Linked DNA regions of Homo sapiens: region 1 is reported to be linked to region 2. Evidence: microRNA targets listed by miRTarBase, many of them from high-throughput screens and not tested one by one. Region 2 holds a microRNA gene; the other region holds the end of a gene's coding sequence.
Evidence for each region. Region 2 holds the annotated microRNA hsa-miR-6840-3p (GCCCAGGACUUUGUGCGGGGUG, at 1,519-1,540, opposite strand). A microRNA usually pairs through its seed, bases 2 to 8, with sites in the 3' UTR of a target mRNA and lowers its output. Matches are read on the target gene's strand: a 7mer-m8 pairs with bases 2 to 8, a 7mer-A1 pairs with bases 2 to 7 and ends in A, and an 8mer does both.

Region 1 (4,000 bases), not on the chromosome of region 2:
AGAAGTGGTGGACACAAGCCCAAGCCCACGACCTGGTCATCAAAAGCCTTGACAAATTGAAGGAGGTGAGGGAGTTTTTGGGTGAGAACATATCCAACTTTCTTTCCTTAGCTGGCAATACTTACCAACTCACACGAGGCATTGGGAAGGACATCCGTGCCCTCAGACGAGCCAGAGCCAATCTTCAGTCAGTACCGCATGCCTCAGCCTCACGCCCCCGGGTCACTGAGCCAATCTCAGCTGAAAGCGGTGAACAGGTGGAGAGGGTTAATGAACCCAGCATCCTGGAAATGAGCAGAGGAGTCAAGCTCACGGATGTGGCCCCTGTAAGCTTCTTTCTTGTGCTGGATGTAGTCTACCTCGTGTACGAATCAAAGCACTTACATGAGGGGGCAAAGTCAGAGACAGCTGAGGAGCTGAAGAAGGTGGCTCAGGAGCTGGAGGAGAAGCTAAACATTCTCAACAATAATTATAAGATTCTGCAGGCGGACCAAGAACTGTGACCACAGGGCAGGGCAGCCACCAGGAGAGATATGCCTGGCAGGGGCCAGGACAAAATGCAAACTTTTTTTTTTTTCTGAGACAGAGTCTTGCTCTGTCGCCAAGTTGGAGTGCAATGGTGCGATCTCAGCTCACTGCAAGCTCTGCCTCCCGTGTTCAAGCGATTCTCCTGCCTTGGCCTCCCAAGTAGCTGGGACTACAGGCGCCTACCACCATGCCCAGCTAATTTTTGTATTTTTAATAGAGATGGGGTTTCACCATGTTGGCCAGGATGGTCTCGATCTCCTGACCTCTTGATCTGCCCACCTTGGCCTCCCAAAGTGCTGGGATTACAGGCGTGAGCCATCGCTTTTGACCCAAATGCAAACATTTTATTAGGGGGATAAAGAGGGTGAGGTAAAGTTTATGGAACTGAGTGTTAGGGACTTTGGCATTTCCATAGCTGAGCACAGCAGGGGAGGGGTTAATGCAGATGGCAGTGCAGCAAGGAGAAGGCAGGAACATTGGAGCCTGCAATAAGGGAAAAATGGGAACTGGAGAGTGTGGGGAATGGGAAGAAGCAGTTTACTTTAGACTAAAGAATATATTGGGGGGCCGGGTGTAGTGGCTCATGCCTGTAATCCGAGCACTTTGGGAGGCCAAGGCGGGCGGATCACGAGGTCAGGAGATCGAGACCATCCTGGCTAACACAGTGAAACCCCGTCTCTACTAAAAATACAAAAAATTAGCCGGGCATGGTGGCGGGCGCCTGTAGTTCCAGCTAACTGGGCGGCTGAGGCAGGAGAATGGCGTGAACCTGGGAGGTGGAGCTTGCAGTGAGCCGAGATATCGCCACTGCACTCCAGCCTGGGTGACAGAGCGAGACTCCATCTCAAAAAAAAAAAAAAAAAGAATATATTGACGGAAGAATAGAGAGGAGGCTTGAAGGAACCAGCAATGAGAAGGCCAGGAAAAGAAAGAGCTGAAAATGGAGAAAGCCCAAGAGTTAGAACAGTTGGATACAGGAGAAGAAACAGCGGCTCCACTACAGACCCAGCCCCAGGTTCAATGTCCTCCGAAGAATGAAGTCTTTCCCTGGTGATGGTCCCCTGCCCTGTCTTTCCAGCATCCACTCTCCCTTGTCCTCCTGGGGGCATATCTCAGTCAGGCAGCGGCTTCCTGATGATGGTCATTGGGGTGGTTGTCATGTGATGGGTCCCCTCCAGGTTACTAAAGGGTGCATGTCCCCTGCTTGAACACTGAAGGGCAGGTGGTGGGCCATGGCCATGGTCCCCAGCTGAGGAGCAGGTGTCCCTGAGAACCCAAACTTCCCAGAGAGTATGTGAGAACCAACCAATGAAAACAGTCCCATCGCTCTTACCCGGTAAGTAAACAGTCAGAAAATTAGCATGAAAGCAGTTTAGCATTGGGAGGAAGCTCAGATCTCTAGAGCTGTCTTGTCGCCGCCCAGGATTGACCTGTGTGTAAGTCCCAATAAACTCACCTACTCATCAAGCTGGACTTGTTCGAGTCATTCTTTGGTCTCTCAGCTCTTTCCAAGCTTTGGGGGCCATCAGTCTCAAGTTTTTCTCGTAATGGTGGTGATGGTGGTTGTGATGGCAGCAGAGTGGTGGGGGCCTTGGCAAGTGGTCGGTGCTCTTCCAGACCAGGGGACACCGATGGACCGATGAAGTTCCAGGGGAACTTGAAGTGCTGTGTTGGAAAGAGGTTAATTTGGGAAGAAAGGAAAAATGAAAGGAGATGCCAGGAACAGGTCAAGGAACCTTGAGGTGTGTCCAGGAGTTCAACCCCGCTTGTGGTCACGAGACCTCGCCTCTCTGAGCCTCAGTTTCCTCATCAGCTGTAGAAGGGTACCTGGACAAGGTGATGTCTCAGGTCCACCCAGCTCTCCCCATCTTGTGTCCTGGAGACTTGGGTCCAATCAGCACTGACTGATGGCTGTGCCTTTGTGGTGCCGATGGAGGCTCCCCTGGGCTCTGGGTGCCTGACTTCCCTTCCTCATGATCCTTCTTCCAGGGTCTCGGGAAACGAGGCTTCCATGGCCCCTCCTGCTTGCTCACTGGACTCTCACTTTCCCAGCTGGTCATTTCCCTGAGACCTCAAAACCCCACCAACCCCACTGGGGCACCCACAGAAAGCTTGTACATGTCTGGCTCTGGCTGAGCACAGGTGTGGTTTCCATCTGCGAGTCAGAGCCCGGGATTGACATGGGACGCTCGAGGCTGACTAGTGTCAGAGGGGCCTGTGTGCAGATTGGGAGAAGATTATCGAGTAATAGAGGGGCAAAGAGGGACATCCAGACAGCAAACACCCCCATCCAGTCTGTCCTCACGTTTTGCCCAGACTCCTGCAAGAACTTCCAGAATGGTCTTCCATGTGCAACTGCCCGTCCCTGCCCATGTCCTGGATCATTCTCCACACTGCGCCAGGTTGGGCTTTAACAAGATCATGTTTTGGGTTTTTGGGGGTTTTTTGTTTGTTTGTTTGGTCTCACTCTGTTGTGAGGCTGGCGTCCCGTGGCATGAGCATGGCTCACTGCATCTTGGACCTCCCGGCCTCAAACTACCCTTCCACCTTGACCCCCTGAGTAGCTGGGACCATCCGTGTGTGCCACATTGCCCAGGCTGGTCTCAAACTCCTGAGTTCAGGTGATCTGTTCGCCTTGGCATTCCAATGGGCTGCAATTACAGACACGAGCCACCGTGCCCACCTAAGAACATAGATTTGATCGAGCACCCACTTCTGACCATTCAATGGCTTCCCATTACTCTTAGCACAAAGATGTAGGCCATGATGCTGCCTAAAGTAGCCTGTTGCGGCCTGGGGTCCTGTGAAGGAAGAGCCAGAGGCAACGTTCTGGTGCAGAGGGTTTCTAGGAAGTGATTCTAGGAGCAGAACTGAGGATCCAGGAGGGAAGGAGGAAACGTTGATACAAGAAGTTTTTGAATGGGCCATCCATATGGGCAATGAGACCTTCTGAGGTGCCTTCAAGGAGCGTCCTCAGAATCTTTGTTTCCAGGGAGGAGACATGGAGGCCTTTATCCACTGCTTTAGCTGTGTCCCAGGGGTTCTGGTACATTGTGTCTTTGTTCTCATTGGTTTCAAAGAACTTCTTGATTTCTGCCTTAATTTTGTTATTTACCCAGTAATCATTCAGGAACACGTTGTTCAATTTCCATGTAGTTGTGCGGTTTTTAGTGAGTTTCTTAATCCTGAGTTCTAATTTGATTGCACTGTGGTCTGAGACACTGTTTGTTATGATTTCCATTCTTTTGCATTTGCTGAGGAATGTTTTACTTCCAATTATGTGGTCGACTTTAGAATAAGTGTTATACGGTGCTGAGAAGAAAGTATATTCTGTTGATTTGGGACGGAGAGTTCTGTAGATGTCTGTTAGGTCCACTCAGTCCAGGGCTGAGTTCAAGTCCTGAACATCCTTGTTAATTTTCTGTCTCGTTGACCTGTCTAATATTGACAGTGGGGTGTTAAAGTCTCCCAC
Region 2 (4,148 bases):
AGGGGCTGCCTGAGGGCTGAGGTGAGTGGGGAGAGCCAGGGTGAGGCTCCCCAGAGGGCTGTGGGGGCCGGGGACCTTCCCCAAACCAGTACACCTCCAGGGTGACCAGCACTTCCTTTATCCATCTGGCTTCTTATTGCAAAAGGGCCTTAGGTGCCTTTTTATCCCTTGCCTAATTGCTCCGGCCAGGACTTCAAATCCTTTTTTTTTTTTTTTTTTTAGTAGAGATGGGGTTTTGCCATGTTGGCCAGGGTGGTCTCACACTCATAGGCTCAAGTAATCTGCCCGCCTCAGCCTCCAAAAGTGCTGGGATTACAGGCGTGAGCCACTGTGCCCGGCCTGACTTCAAATCCTGTGTTGAATAGAAGTAGTGAGAGCGGGCATCCTTCTCTTGTTCCTGATCTTGGAGGCAAAGATTTCAGTCTTTCATCTAAAATGACTGAAAGACTTTCAGCCATGGGCCTTGCATGACTGGCCTTTATTTTGTTGCAGTACATTCCTTCTCTTCCTGGTTTGTGGAGTGTTTTACCAGGAAAGGGTGTTCAGGCTGGGCACAGTGGCTCAAGTCACACAAAAGTGTCAAGTCAGCCCTGCCCAAGGGCCCCAGTGCCCATCTTCCTGCTGAGGGGCTGGGCCTCACCTTGGCTGGCTGGGCCCCTCCCACCTGGATCCCTGCAGACCCCACCGCACTCAGCCTCACTTCTCATCCCTTTCTCTGTCCAAGGCCAGCGCAGGCTCTTTCAGGGAGAGGAAAGGCGGGCCTGAGTCTGTGCTCTGCTGCACCCCAGATTCAGTCCTCAGAGAGGAGAAGGAGGAAGCCAGTGGAGGTCACAGGCGCTCAGCCCCCAGCCCAAGCACCAGAGCCCCCAGCTTGTCCTCTGTCCCTCTCCCTCCCTGGCAGGGGCTCCCATGCAGTCCCCAGGCACCACCACAGCCCAGCTGGCCTCTTCCCACCCCAGGCCTGCTCCCTTGGTGCAGGGACCACAGTCTTGCTCAAGGGGTGAGGGGGCTGACGGTCCCCTACACAGAGACTGGTCCCTCTCGAGGCCACCCCTTGACCCCCAGACATGAGACTGGATCTGCAGGGTCCCCTCTGACCTCCCTGCCCTACACAGGAGGGGACAGAGCTTGGAGAAGCCCTGTCCCAGGCCACATGACTTGCAGGGCAGTCCCAGGACTGGAGCCCCCTCTACCTGGATCTCTGGGCCTCAACTTCTGAGTTGCAGGAACTCAGGCATAGGGGAGCCCCAGGAGGTTGTTCCCTCATACAGCCCCTCAGGTCATTCCCTCCACACACCTGAGCCTATGGCTGAACCAGGAAGGTTCCTTGGTGCCAGGGCAGCTGGACTCACCCTGGGTGATGGTGAGGTGGGTCCCCTTGATGGACTGCCACGACAGCCTCCCTGATCTGTATGTCCAGCTGGACTTGGCAGAAGTACACAGACTGGTCCTCCTTCCGCAGGTTCGAGATCCTGAGGAAGCCTCCCTGAGGAAGTGAAGGCTCAGAGCAACAGTGGGCACCCCGCACAAAGTCCTGGGCCCGTCTCTAACAGGGGATCTGCAGGTCTTTGCCCGGGGGTGGTCACTGGAGCTTTGGTGACCCACAGGGCTCCCTCCATAGGAGGCTCTGCCCATCCTCTCCAGAGTAAGGTGGCATCAGCTGAGGGGCCGTGGGGACAGGAAGGCAGGATTTCACCAGAGGAAGTGATAACAATCTTCTTGAGACAGAAGCAGGCAGGGACAGGCCTCCCTTCTCTTGTCAGTCTCTTCCCTGGTCCCAGTAGGCTCCTCTGTGCTTCCCAGGGCCAGTCAGGCCGATCCACCCTCCTTCCCTTCACAGGTCTGAGGAAACAGGCTCCCCATGCTCAGGAAACCCCTCCGTCTGAGCCAGGCCCTATACACCTCATTCTCCTTGTTCAACCCACAGGGAAACTGAGGCACCGGGGCTTTGGACTGAACTGGTCCCACCTGCAAAGGTGGGCCGAAAAGAGGACAAGGGACCCCCTGGCTGTTTGGGCAAGGCCTCAAGAGGGTGGCCCACCCTGCCTGAGGACTTTTTGTTTTTTTTTTTTGAGATGGATTCTCGCTGTGTTGCCCAGGCTGGAGTGCAATGGTGTGATCTTGGCTCACGGTAACCTCTGCTTCCTGGGTTCAAGTAATTCTCCTGCCTCAGCCTTCCAAGTAGCTGGGAATTACAGGTGTGTGCCACCACACCCAGCTAATTTTTATATTTTTAGTAGAGACAGGGTTTCACCATGTTGGCCAGGCTGGTCTCAAACTCCTGGCCTCAAGTGATCTGCCCACCTCAGCCTCCCAAAGTGCTGGGATTATAGGCATGGGATACAACACCCAGCCACTGAGGACTGACTCTTCGTTCCATTCCTGCCTTGCCCGTGGCCCATGGGACCCAGCTAGAAGGTCACCTGCTTACCAGGCTGCCCAAGGAGGGGGCCACATAGAACTTTTAGCCAACAGCCTCTGGGTAGCTCTGGAGGGTACATACTCCCCAGGGGCCTCAGGCCCGGTACCGCCACGTGCATTCTCCTTAGATGCAAGGTGCGTGTTTATGTCACTTTCCGGGCTCTGGACCCAGCTGAACCCCCATGGGAGATTCCTTTTGTGTCAGGATTTCTGCTCTGGAATGGTGTGAGGCCTCCCGGATGGTTCATCCTCCCTCCCCCAACAGCAGTGACAGGGCCTGGGGCTAAGCCTGGGGCTGTGGCTCTCTCTCAGAGGGGGGTTTTGGGAGGCACCGGCCCTGGAGGAGGGCATGATTCCAACATGGGCAGAGTCTAAATCCAGCCCGTTAGCCCAGCAGGTGGCCATGGGAGAGGCATGGGATGCAGTGTTCAGCAGAGGCAGGGAGGGGGCCAGGACCCTGCCCATTTTGAGAACTGCTGCTTGTATGTCCCCACCTTCCCCCAACAACTATCCTCCTTTCCTCACCAGCCACGTCTATGCCTGCCCCAGCCCCTTGCCCCTCCTTGGCACCCACCTTGTTCTTGCTTTCCCCTTGAGATCAGGAATGAGGCACAGATGTCTGCTCTCACTGCCTCCCTTCACGGTACTGGAGTCCTAGCCAGCGCGCTATGCCTGAAGGGAAATACAAGTGCTCTGTGTCTTCTTCAATTCTGTATTGATCTATTTGGCCTCCACCCATCACAGGGCCCATATTATCTATATTTCCTGCATTCTTGGCCTCTTTTTAGTGGGGGACATGGTCTCGCTCTGCCTGTAGGTGGGACTATAGGCACGCACCACAGTTCTCCCCTAATTTTCTTTTTTGCAGAGACGTGGTGTCACTGTTACCCAGGCTGGCCTCAATCTCCCAGGCTCAAGGCATCCTCTCAGTGTGCTGGGATTACACATATGAGCCACAGGGCTGAGCCCCTTGTACATTGCCAATGCTCTGGCATCTGGTGCCTCACTGACTAGGGAGAGACTCCCCCTCCCAGGGGTAGCTGACTGTAAAATTTTTACATCAACTTATTAAATCAGCTGGTCAATTTTGACCCAGAGCCATGCTGAAATTTTGATTAAGAAGCTCCTATTCAGGCGGGGCACCGTGGCTCAAGTCTGTAATCTCAGCACTTTGGGAGGCCAAGGTGGGTGGATCACCTGAGGTCAGGAGTTCGAGACCAGCCCAGCCAAACATGGTGAAACCCGTCTCTACTGAAAAAAAAAAAAAAAATACAAAAATTAGCGGACACGATGGTGCACATCCGTAGTCCCAGCTACTCGGGAGGCTGACGCAGGAGAATCACTAGAACCCGGGAGGTGGAGGTTGAAGTAAGCCAAGATCGTGCCAATGCACTCCAGCCTGGGTGACAGAGCAAGGCTCTGAAATCCAGCCAGATTTCAGGCAAGTCCTCCTACTTTCCAGCCCTGCCTGATGCCAGCTGTGGAAGGAGGGCATCAGGACTCTAGCCCAGGCCACAGCAGGGAGCCCGGCAGAGGGACGCCAGGTCAAATCACAGGGACTTTTCTCAGGCTGAAGCCCCAGGAACCCTTGCTGCTGTCCTAGGACATGGTGGGATTGCAGCAGGGACCATCCCGCTGGGATCCCCCAATTCTGTCTAGGAAGCCACAGGTGTCCCTCAGGAAGCTCCCCCAACCCCCCGCCACCCCAAGAAGCCAGGACAGATCTC

Region 1: miRTarBase lists APOL1 as a target of hsa-miR-6840-3p. Seed matches in the 3' UTR shown: 7mer-A1 at 1,297-1,303 and 7mer-m8 at 1,626-1,632.

Annotation. Positions count from the first base shown.
Region 1 is chr22:36,265,531-36,269,530 of GRCh38, forward strand. APOL1 (apolipoprotein L1) reads left to right here. Exons shown (of 6, transcript NM_003661.4): 6 at 1-1,995. The coding sequence ends at 503. Among named protein-coding and RNA genes, the nearest start is that of APOL1, 14 kb to the left of the region's middle.
Region 2 is chr7:100,354,088-100,358,235 of GRCh38, reverse strand. MIR6840 (microRNA 6840) reads right to left here and starts at 1,585; the gene lies at 1,515-1,585. It overlaps PILRB (paired immunoglobin like type 2 receptor beta), which reads right to left and starts at 119. Exons shown (of 4, transcript NM_178238.4): 1 at 1-119. STAG3L5P-PVRIG2P-PILRB (STAG3L5P-PVRIG2P-PILRB readthrough) reads right to left here. Exons shown (of 17, transcript NR_036570.1): 12 at 2,996-3,093; 13 at 1,353-1,486; 14 at 1-16.